2 separate regions of the Homo sapiens genome follow, and region 2 is linked to region 1. The links come from fine-mapping of genetic effects on gene expression. A gene starts in region 1. The other region holds a variant in brackets. All regions are shown on one strand. Distances are between the middles of the regions.

Region 1 (5,377 bases):
CCAAGCCCGGGGACCAGGTGGTGTCCACTCACCTGATTCTCATTTCCGGCTCCCCCGGAGGCCATGAAGGAGGAGGCAGAGGAAGGCAGAGCAAGCAGGTGTGACTCTAGGTCCCCACTCCGGGCGCTCTGGGCATGGCGAGGGGGGGTGCAGAGGCAAGTGCATGCACTGCGTCACGACCTGCAACAGGAAGCTGATGGGACAGCATGGTCAGGCAGGGAGACCCGAGGCTCAGCTGTCCCAAACCAACCAGTACTGGTGTGGGCAGAGCCCAGGACAGCCAAGAGCCTGCAGGGAGGTGTCAGAGGGGCCCCTGTAACAGGGCAGGGTGGCTCTGCCGAGGCTGTAGTTCAGATTCACAGGTAGGGATGCCAGATTTAGCAAATGCATAGACAGCATCCTAGTTCAGTTTGAATTTTAGATAAATATGCAATAACTTTTTAATATAAGCTTGTCCTATGTCCCAGGCATCATTTATTTGGAATTCAAATTTAACTGATTGCTCTGTATGTTATCTGAAAACACCAGAAGGTTAGGGTTTTAGAGGGCCCACTCAGGCCTCAAACGGATCCAGAGCCCCAGTATGAGCCAATGTGAGCTCAAGGCAGACAGGGCCCCTCCAGGCTTGGCCTGACATCCAGAGAGACCACGAGCCACAGGGGCTAACAAGAGGCCACAAGGCCTAAGTCCTTTCTGTCCTCAGGGGCGTGCAAGGCTGCCTTCACTTTCTTGCTCTTCTAGACCAGGTGCCTACTCTTTGGAAAGGAGAGAAGAAAAGGGAGGTTTGGGCATATTTTCTCCCAGAGACTGAGCATTACCCAAAGGCTGTTCAAAGTATCCCTTAGAACTGTGTTCTAACCTGGGTAGGATGAAAGTTTATCTATTTTTATTGCTAAGCTGCAGGTGAGGGCTTGGGAACACCTGGTTACATGCACCCCAGATCAAGACTGTCCACGTCCGGTGCACCCCTGAACACAGCAGGAGGGAACTTGGGGATCCACTGCCCTCGCTCACTGTAAGCTTCCCAGGACTGAAGCCCCAAAGAGGAGCCCTCTGCCTTCTCTGTCCTCCCCATGGGTCAGCGTGTCCTGCTTCTGAGTGGCCCGTCCTTCCTGCCTAACTGGCTGGCCTGCACCATGGCCCATATTCAACAACCTTAGTCATAGTTCCCACCATTGGCGTTTATGGAAGCTTGGAGCCTCATAAAGTTCAAAGTCTGCAACAATAATAAAGGCCCAGTCAACTTGGCTTGGGCGGCAGCTGCAGCCCAGCACTGGAAGCTCCTAGCTGTGGAGGGGCGTTGGGGCCTGGAGGGAGGAGAGCCTTGGTTTGCCCTGTGGGGCCCAGCCTTGAGTTCTGGCTTCTCAGGGCTCTGTTCTATCATGTTTCCTGTGAACTCCTTTTGTGCCTAAGACGCTGGGCAGTGCCACTCTTGCAGAGGTGCCACTCCAGGCCCTGCACGCTTAGGGGTAGAGCAACTACTACTGTTGGGCACAGGCGTGGGGCTGTAGAAAGAAATCCGTGTTTCACTGGAAAACTATGCATCCTACATAGGACACCAGCTTCCACATGGCCCGATACTAACCTACTAACCTTTCATCTTTTTTTTTTTTTTTTTGAGACGGAGTCTCCCTCTGTCGCCCAGGCTGGAGTGCAATGGCACCGTCTCGGCTCATTGCAGCCTCTGCCTCCCGGGTTCCAGCGATTCTCCAGTCTCAGCCTCTCAGGTAGCTGGGATTACAGGCATGCACCACCACGCCCGGCTAATTTTTGTATTTTAAGTAGAGACGGGGTTTCACCATGTTGGCCAGGGTAGTCTCGAACTCCTGACTTCAGGTGATCCGCCCGCCTCGGCCTCCCAAAGTGCTGGAATCGCAGACGTGAGTCACCGCGCCCGGTCTGAAAATTATCTTTTAATAGGGGTTAGCTGCATGAGTTAAAATCTCATTGCCACCATTTGCTGACTTTGTGCCCTCTGGGAGATTGCTTAATCTCTCTGGGATAAACCTCGGTTTGCTTGACAAAGGAAGCTGGTGAGGCTAAAGAGAGAACTCTAAGATTGGGGCGTTCCGAAGCCTTCTAGAGCCTTCTAGCACCCTGGACTCATAGCCAATGATGGGCAACAACAAGAACGACGACGAACCCTGGGCTCGGAACTCGCCCAGGCCCCGCCCCTCACAGCCCCGCCCCGTCCTCGGCCCCGCCCCCGGCCTGTCGCCTCAACAAAGTCCCCGCCGCGCGGCCGCTGGCCGGGAGTCAGCTCGGAGTCCCGTCCCAGCGCGGCGTCAGCGCTGCGCACTTCCCATTGGCCGAGCGCGGCGCGGGGGCGGGCCCGGGCCTGCGATTGCCTCTCGGCGTGCGCGGACAGTGTCATGGAGGCCGCGGCGGTGACGGTCACCCGGTCGGCTACACGGCGGCGGCGGCGGCAGCTGCAGGGGCTGGCGGCCCCGGAGGCGGGGACGCAGGAGGAGCAGGAGGATCAGGAGCCGCGGCCGCGGCGGCGGCGGCCGGGAAGGAGGTGGGGCTGCGGGGCCCGCGTGAACCCCGATCCGCGGGGCTGAGAGTCCGTGGCCCCGGGGCCCGAGGTTTCCCGGCACGGGCGCGCCGAGGGGCGGGGGGCCGGCGCCTGTGTCCGCTCCGTGCACAGTAAGGGACAGAGGGTGGCAGCGCCCCTCCGCCCCGGTCCGCCCCGCCGTCCTCGCGCCACTGCCGGGCAGCGGCCTCCGGCCCCCGTGCGTGACCCCTGCCTATCTCAGAAATACGGGTGCAAACCCGAGTGGCCGCGGGGCCCAGCGGGAATCCCGACGCCCCGGCCAGACCCCTGCTTCCCACGTCGCTGGTCTATGCGGAAGATCCCGGCGGCGGTGCTCATGCCTGGCTCAGTGGATGCCGGCTGGTGGAAGGGGTGGCCTTCTGTAGGGGTGACACTAGAACTGAGTCTTTGGGGAGGAGGAAGCCTTCAGTAGGTGGAGAATAGGGAGTAGGGTATCCAACTGGCGGGGAACAGAAAGGGCCAAAGCACAGAGACAGAAAGGGACGAACATGCCCCTCTGGGCTGGGCTTCCTTCCTTTGGGGGGCACTTGCCCACCCGGTAAACTCCCCCTCAGTAGGTTGCAGGGGGAGAAGTTAGGAGCACAGACATGGCTTCCGGAAACAGCAGCCGTAGCTTTGTTTCTAAACCCAAAGCAGTGAGACTGCTGAGCATTTCAGACCTCATGAAGATGGGATGAAGGCTGGCTGCTGGGAAAGATATTTTTGGACAGGAGGAATGTGGAGATGGCTCTTTCCCTCCTAGTGGAGGAATGACAGGTGACAAAGGTGACCTGGTGTGGGATTGTTCTGAGAAGGTCTGGGAGGGGGTGGCTGAAGTATAATAAGGACATCAACGAGGAAGGGGGCTTTGGAAAAGGAAGGTGGAGAGGAACAACTGCGGCATCTCTGCTTGAATCCGTCCCCGACCCCTGCAGTTCTCAGGGTCTCCCAATGTCATTCTGGAGGCCCTGGGTCAGTGTTTGGTGATGGCAGATGCTACAGAGGACTCTTTGCAACAGGCCTCTGAATGGCAGTGGAGTGATGGCAGATGACAACTCAGTGAACAAAGAAGTGGCCTTGGGCGTTGGTAGATTTAGGGAATCTCAACGTTGGTGCCATGGCCTCTAAATAGCCACTGCGGTGTCTTCTTACTGCTCCTAAAATAATAATGATTTTTTAGGCCAGGCATGGTGGCTTATGCCTGTAATCTCAGCACTTGGGAGGCTGAGGCGTGTGATCACCTGAGTTCGGGAGTTTGAGACCAGCCTGGCCAACATGGTGAAACTCAGTCTCTACTAAAAGTACAAAATTAGTCAGGCGTGGTGGCAGATGCCTGTAATCCCAGCTACTTGGGAGGCTGAGGCAGGAGACTCACTTGAACCCAGGAACTGGAGGTTGCAGTGAGCTGAGATTTCACCACCTTACTCCAGCCTGGGCGACAGAGCGAGACTCTGTCTCAATTAATCAATCAATTTTTAAAAGAAAGTGGTTTGAGATGTATTTAGGAGCTTTCCATGTTAATGTACCGAAGGAACGAAGGAACTCTTTCTCCCTGTAACATACATCCATGAACAGCGCGGAAGGCACTTAGGGAAGTGTGGCCTATAGAGGAAGCCTGGTCTCTGCTCTCTTAGGACCTGAAACTTTCTGGTGCTTTGGGTATTTGGATATTGCCCCTTGGCCATAGAAAATCCTGGGGACCCTGTGAAGTATTTATGTCTGGTCTTTGTGGTATTGGGGTGGCTGCTTTAGAGGGTAAGGTTTATTCTATTTATTTATTTTTTTGAGATGGAGTCTCGTTCTGTTGCCCAAGTTGGAGTGTAGTGGCACAGTCCCGGCTCACTGCAACCTTCGCCTCCCAGGTTCAAGTGATTCTCCCTGCCTCAGCCTCCCAAGGTGCTGGGATTACAGGCGTGTGCCACCATGCCCAGCTAATTTTTGTATTAGTAGAGATGGGGTTTTGCCATGTTGGCCAGGCTGGTCTTTAACTCCTGACCTCAGGTGATTCGCCTGCCTTGGCTTCCCAAAGTGTTGGGATTACAGGCGTGAACCACTGCGTCTGGCCTAGGGTAAGGTTTATTCTTAGGAGTAATCATTGGTACGTGTGTCCATGTGGAAGCCAAGCCCTGGTTGCTAATATAGGTAAAACCTTAGGATTATCACAGGGCACTTCCTTGCTTTATACAATGTTTCTATAGTTAATATTAAACAACATAAGGCAGAGAATATCTCTCTGTGTTTAGATGAAACTGGTCCATTTGCTTCTAAGTGTTCTTACCTATTTATGTTTTTATTTATAAATGTACAACTCCCTCTTTGCTTAGCATCAAAGATGAAGAAGAAGAGACAGTCTTTCGAGAGGTGGTCAGTTTTTCCCCGGACCCCCTGCCAGGTGAGGAGACAGAGGCTCTGAATACCGATCCACCTTCACACCTGGGGCTTTGGGGCAGGTCAGCCCCTGCCCCCTCTCATGTTCCTTCTCTGTTATTGTTAAAATGTTTCGATTAATCCTATAATAGTTTCCATTAATTGCTCAATGTTTCTGTCCTCGGACCAGTTAGATATTATGACAAGGACACCACCAAACCAATCAGCTTTTACTTGTCTTCGCTGGAGGAGCTCTTGGCGTGGAAGCCCCGCTTGGAGGATGGCTTTAATGTGGCCCTGGAGCCCCTGGCGTGTCGCCAGCCCCCTCTGAGCAGCCAGAGGCCCCGGACTTTGTTGTGTCATGACATGATGGGCGGGTACCTGGATGACAGGTGAGGACCTGGCCTTACATTGATGTTGCTTACATTGTTCTCCTTTGCTGGGGTGGGGGCTGGAGGGGCGGGAGAGAGTGCCATG
Region 2 (5,377 bases), 21 kb before region 1:
GCAGTTGATCTTGACGGGATCCTCTCCCGGTTTCCTGTCCCAAGCTGGTGAGAAATTGGCTAGCCATCTCACTAAAGGGTCTAGAAAACTCAGTTGCAATACAAATATCAGTGTTTTAGCAAAAGGACTTAGTAATGGCTGATGACTCAGCCCAACGAAATAACTGCCTATGTTAGGACTTTCAGGAGCTTTTGTAGCCAGGGATGGGGATGAGGAGGTCATGGCCCACACTAGTCCTCAATGATAATTTTCTGTAAGGTCCACTATGGGAACGCAGTGGCGTGATGGCAAGCTGATTTTATTGGGCCATAATGACTAGCATAAGATGAGACATTGTTGCCCAGATTATTAAAAAAAAATAGAATGTAACAGAAAATAATAAATAATGCAAGATATCGATGTCCCAACATGCAAAAGAATGGAGTTGGGCCCCTACCTCACACCATATACGAAAATTAGGCCTTGGATCAAAGGCCTAAATATTAGAGCCAAAACTACAAAATTCTTAGAAGAAAGCCCAGGCATACATCTTCATGACCTTGGATTAGGTGATGATTTCTTAGGTATGATATCAAAGGTACAAGCAACAAAAGAAAAAAATAGATCAACTGCACATCATCAAACTTGTAAATTTCTGTGTTTCAAAGGACACCATCAAGTAAGTGAAAAGACAACTCACAGAATGGGAGAAAATATTTGCCATCATATATCTGATAAGGGACTTATATCTAGAATATATAAAGAACTCTTGCAACTCAATAATAAAAAGACAAATAATCTAATTAAAAATGGGCAAAGCAGCCCACACTTCTCCAGAGGAGATATACAAGTAACCAATACACACATGAACAGGTGTAATCATCAGAGAAATGCAAGTCAAAACCACAGTGAGACACAACTCTACAACCACCAATACACACATGAACAGGTGTATCATCAGGGAAACGCAAATCAAAACCACAGTGAGACAACTCTACAACCAATGGGAAGGCTGTTGTCAAGAAGACAGATGATAACATGTGTTGCTGAGGATATGGAGCTGCTGGAACTGCTGTCAGGAATACAAAATGGTGAGTCCCCTTTAGAAGACAGCCTGGCAGTTCCTCAAAATGTTAAGCATAGAGCTACAGCTGACCCAGCCATAACACTTCTAGGTATATACCCAAAAGACATGAAAATATATGTCTATGAAAAGCTTATAGATAGATGTTCATAGCAGCATTATTAGTAATAACAAAGAAGCAGGTACAACCCAAGTGCCCACTCAGCTGATGAACAGGTAAACAAATGCAGTGTGTCTATACAAAGCAGGCAGATCACAAGGTCAGGAGTTCGAGACCAGCCTGGCCAACATGGTGAAGCCCTGTTTCTACTAAAAAAATACAAAAATTAGCCAGGCGTAGTGGTGTGTGCCTGTAATCCCAGCTACTTGGGAGTCTGAGGCAGGAGAATTGCTTGAACCTGGGAGGCAGAGGTTGCAGTGAGCGGAGATCGTGCCACTGCATTCCAGAGCCTGGGTGACAGAGCAAGACTCACTCCATCTCAAAAAAAAAAAAAAAAAAAAAAAAAGGAATGAAGTGCTATTACCTACTACAACATTGGTAAACCTCAGAAACATTATCAAAAGGGAAAGAAGCCAGACAGAAAAGGCCATACGTTGCATGATTCCATTTATATGAAATGACCAGAATAAGCAAATCTAAACTAAAAATTACTGAATTCTACACTTTAAATGGATGATTCTATGGTATGTAAATAATATCTCAATAAACAGCAGTTATCAAAACAAGTAACACAAAACCAAAAAATTAGGCTGCCGCAGCCTTCTCTATTCAAGGCTGGAAAGTCCTGGAGCTCCAGAGTCATGACCTTCAGAGTTGGTCCCATTGTTCTGGGCTTGGCTTACGATGGCACAGGGGCCAAGGGCCAGTGAGATGGGATGGGAGTGTCAGGGTTAGTTTTTCCAAGGACATTGTTGAACAAGCATTTTTGAATCAACTGGTGGGTGAGATCACAGAGTCAGCAGGAGGCTGATGCAGGTGCCAGGGGAAGCATTCCACAAGGAATGACTAATTGAGGACCATGTCTTCCTCTCTAAAGTCCTTCCACAGCTGGGGCAGGGATGGGAAACTATGGTGACCTCAAGTGCTCCCATATCCTGCCCTTCCTAGGGCAGAATGGAGTAAGCCCATTTCTCATTATGCAGATGGCCAGGCAAGGACAAGGAATTTCTACTTCAGACACTTTTATAGATAGGATTAGAAGTCCATATGCTCTGGAAAATTTGGAAACCTCCTTGCCTAAAGACAGGAAATGTTCCAACCGCTCAATTGACATAGCCACTAAGTTAGTTCTCCAAGCAACTTGAGATCCTGCTTACTGAGATATTCCACAAGAATGTATTAAATGCCTACCACATGAGGGAAAAAACTCTTACCATTTAGAGTTATCACAATCAGAATATAAAATAACTATGCTTGCTACATTCAGGGAGGTAAAAAAAAAGGATTGATATTTGTGGCAGAAAACTTTAATGATGGTGATGATGGTGGTGATAATAAAGAAGCAAATGGAAGCTCTAGAAGTGAAAAACAAAACAAATGAATTTAAGAGCCTGGGCAACATGGCAAAATCCCATCTTTACAAAAAAATACAAAAGCTAGCCGGGCATCGTGGCACATGCCTGTAGTCCCAGCTACTTGGGTGGCTGAGGCAGGAGGACCACTTGAAACTGGGAGGTGGAAGCTGCAGTGAGCCATGCTTGCACCACTGCATTCCAGCCTGGGGTACAGAGTGGGACCCTGTCTCA[G/GA]AAAAAAAAAAAAAGAAAAAGAAAAAAAAAAATAAACTAAGAATTTGGTGGATAAATATACCATCATACTGTACACAGCTGAAAAGAAAAATCAGTGAATTAGAAGAGAAATCAGAAGAAAATATTTAGAAAGAAGTATGGAAAGACAAAAGGATGAAAACACAGAACAAAAGTACAGAAGTGACAATAAGAAGGCCCAATACACGTGCAACTGGAGTCCCAGGAGGCAACATGAGAGAGAAAAGGCAACAGAAATATTGGAAGATAAAATAGCTGAGAAAAATCACCCAATTGATCAGTCTCTAAGGTACAGATTCAAGAAACTCAGTGAATCCCAAGCAAGACAAATAAAACCAAGGTCACAGCCAGCATGGCATATCATGGTACAACTACTAAAAACCAAAGACCAAGAGAAAGTCTTAAAAGCAGAGGGGAAAATATTTTCTTTCACAGGAGCAATAATAAGTATCACAACTGACCTCTGCTGTGGTTTGGATTTGTGTCCTCACCCAAGCATGTCAAATTGTAATTCCCAATGTTGGAGATGGGGCCTGGTGGGAGGTGATTGGGTCATGGGGGTGGTTCCCCCTTGAGTCCCCCTGTTCTTGTGATAGAGTTCACATGAGATCTGGTTGTGTCAAAATGTCTTCCCCGTCTCTCTCTTCCTCCTGCTCTGGCCATGCAAGACCAGCCTGCTTCCCCTTTGCCTTCTGCCATGATTGAAAGTTTCCTGAGGCCTCTCCAGAAGCCATCATGCTTCCTCTACAGCCTGAAGAACTGTGAGCCAATTAAACCTCTTTTCTTTGTAAATTGCCCAGTCTCAGGCAGTTCTTTATAGCAACAAGAGAATGAACAAATACAAGCAAAAGAGCAGAAGCCACAAGATAGCGGAATGGAATGTTTAAAGGGCTAGAAATAACTGTCCATCTCAGTTCTATTTCCAATTAAAATATTTTTAAAAAGATATTTTCAAACAAACAAAAATTGGGAGACTCTGTCACTGGAAAACCTGCACTGAGAGAAAATGAATGCAGAGGAAAGGTGAGAGATGCAGGGAGGAATCCAGGCCTAGAATAATGGTGAATTTGGTGGCGATTCTCAACGGATGTCGCCAGTAAGAAAATAATAATCTTGGAAACCAGTCGGAAAATTCTCAGAATGTTAAACATAGAGTTTCCACATGACTCAGTACTTCCACTAAGTGTATACCCAAGAGAAATAAGGACAAGCTCCCACACAAAAGCTTGTACTCCAATGTTCCTAGTAGTATTCATAATAGCCAAAAAATGGAAGCAACCCAAATGTCCATCAGTGGGTAACGGAATAAATAAAATGTGGTGTGTCCATATGATGGGCTATTATTTGGCTATAAAAGGAATGAATTAGTGATGCATGCTACAGCATGGAATGAACCTCAAAACATTACACTGTGTGCGAGAAACCAGACATGAAGACCACATATTGTGGGATTCCATTTATATGAAATCTCCAGGGGAGGCACATCCATGGAGACAGAAAGCAGACGAGAAGTTTCCAAGGCTGCTTGTGTGTGGTGGGGGGATTAGAATACGACTGCTAGTTGGTTTCTTTTTGGGGAGACAAACTGTTTGTTTGTTTGTTTTTTTGAGATGGAGTCTTGCACTGTTGCCCAGGCTGGAGGGCAGTGGCATGATCTTGGCTCACTGCAACCTCTGCCTCCCAGGTTCAAGTGATTCTCCTGCCTCAGCCTCCCAAGTAGCTGGGATTACAGGTGCATGCCACCACGCCTGGCTAATTTTTTTGTATTTTTAGTAGAGACAGGGTTTCACTATGTTGGTCAGCCTGGTCTCAAACTCCTGACCTTGTGATCCACCAGCCCCGGCCTCCCAAAGTGCTGGGATTACAGGCGTGAGCCACCATGGCCGGCTGAGACAAACTGTTCTAAAACTAGATTGTGGTGATAGCTGCACAACTCTGTTAATTGTCTTGTTGTTGTTGTTGTTTGTTTGTTTTTGGAGACAGAGTCTCGCTCTGTCACCCAGGCTAGAGTGCAGTGGTACGATCTCAGCTCACTGCGACCTCCACCTCCTGGGCTCAAGTGATTCTCCTGCCTCAGCCTCCCGAGTAGCTGGGATTACAGGTGTGCGCCACCATGCCTGGCTAATTTTTGTATTTTTAGTGAGACAGGGTTTCACCATGTTTGTCAGGCTGGTCTTGAACTCCTGACCTCAGGTGATCCACCCACCTCGACCTCCCGAAGTGCTGGGATTACAGGTATGAGCCACCACGCCTGGCCGAACTGTTAAAGAAGACCTTATTTAGTGACTCTTGTTAAGGCATGGTAAGGCAGACCTTATCAGGACTGTTGAGACAGGTACAGGGACCATTGCAATGGGGTCTTGTGGTGGAGGAAAGGGATTGGGTGTAACCCAGAATACAGCTTGGGCAAGTGGGGATTTATAGCCGGGGAGCAGGGTGGGGGTCAGTGGGTGGAAAATTCCTAGGAGGAAACATCGGGGTGAGGGGGTTCTGGCTATAACCATTAGGTTTTTATTGTGGCAGCATCTGTAGGGAATGCTGGGCTGTGAG

The links. PIP is the estimated chance that this variant, and not a neighbour inherited with it, causes the effect. A credible set is the group of variants that fine-mapping cannot tell apart.
Region 2: its variant is the best candidate, but not a certain one, in a credible set for the expression of ENGASE in iPS cells (HipSci, PIP 0.52).

What each region holds. Positions count from the first base shown.
Region 1 is chr17:79,072,573-79,077,949 of GRCh38, forward strand. It overlaps ENGASE (endo-beta-N-acetylglucosaminidase), which reads left to right and starts at 2,252. Exons shown (of 14, transcript NM_001042573.3): 1 at 2,252-2,518; 2 at 4,858-4,925; 3 at 5,091-5,292. The coding sequence starts at 2,373. RefSeq lists a silencer at 2,114-2,653.
Region 2 is chr17:79,051,370-79,056,746 of GRCh38, forward strand. No RefSeq gene overlaps it. Among named protein-coding and RNA genes, the nearest start is that of ENGASE, 21 kb to the right of the region's middle. The variant G/GA (reference allele first, on the strand shown) is at 2,810.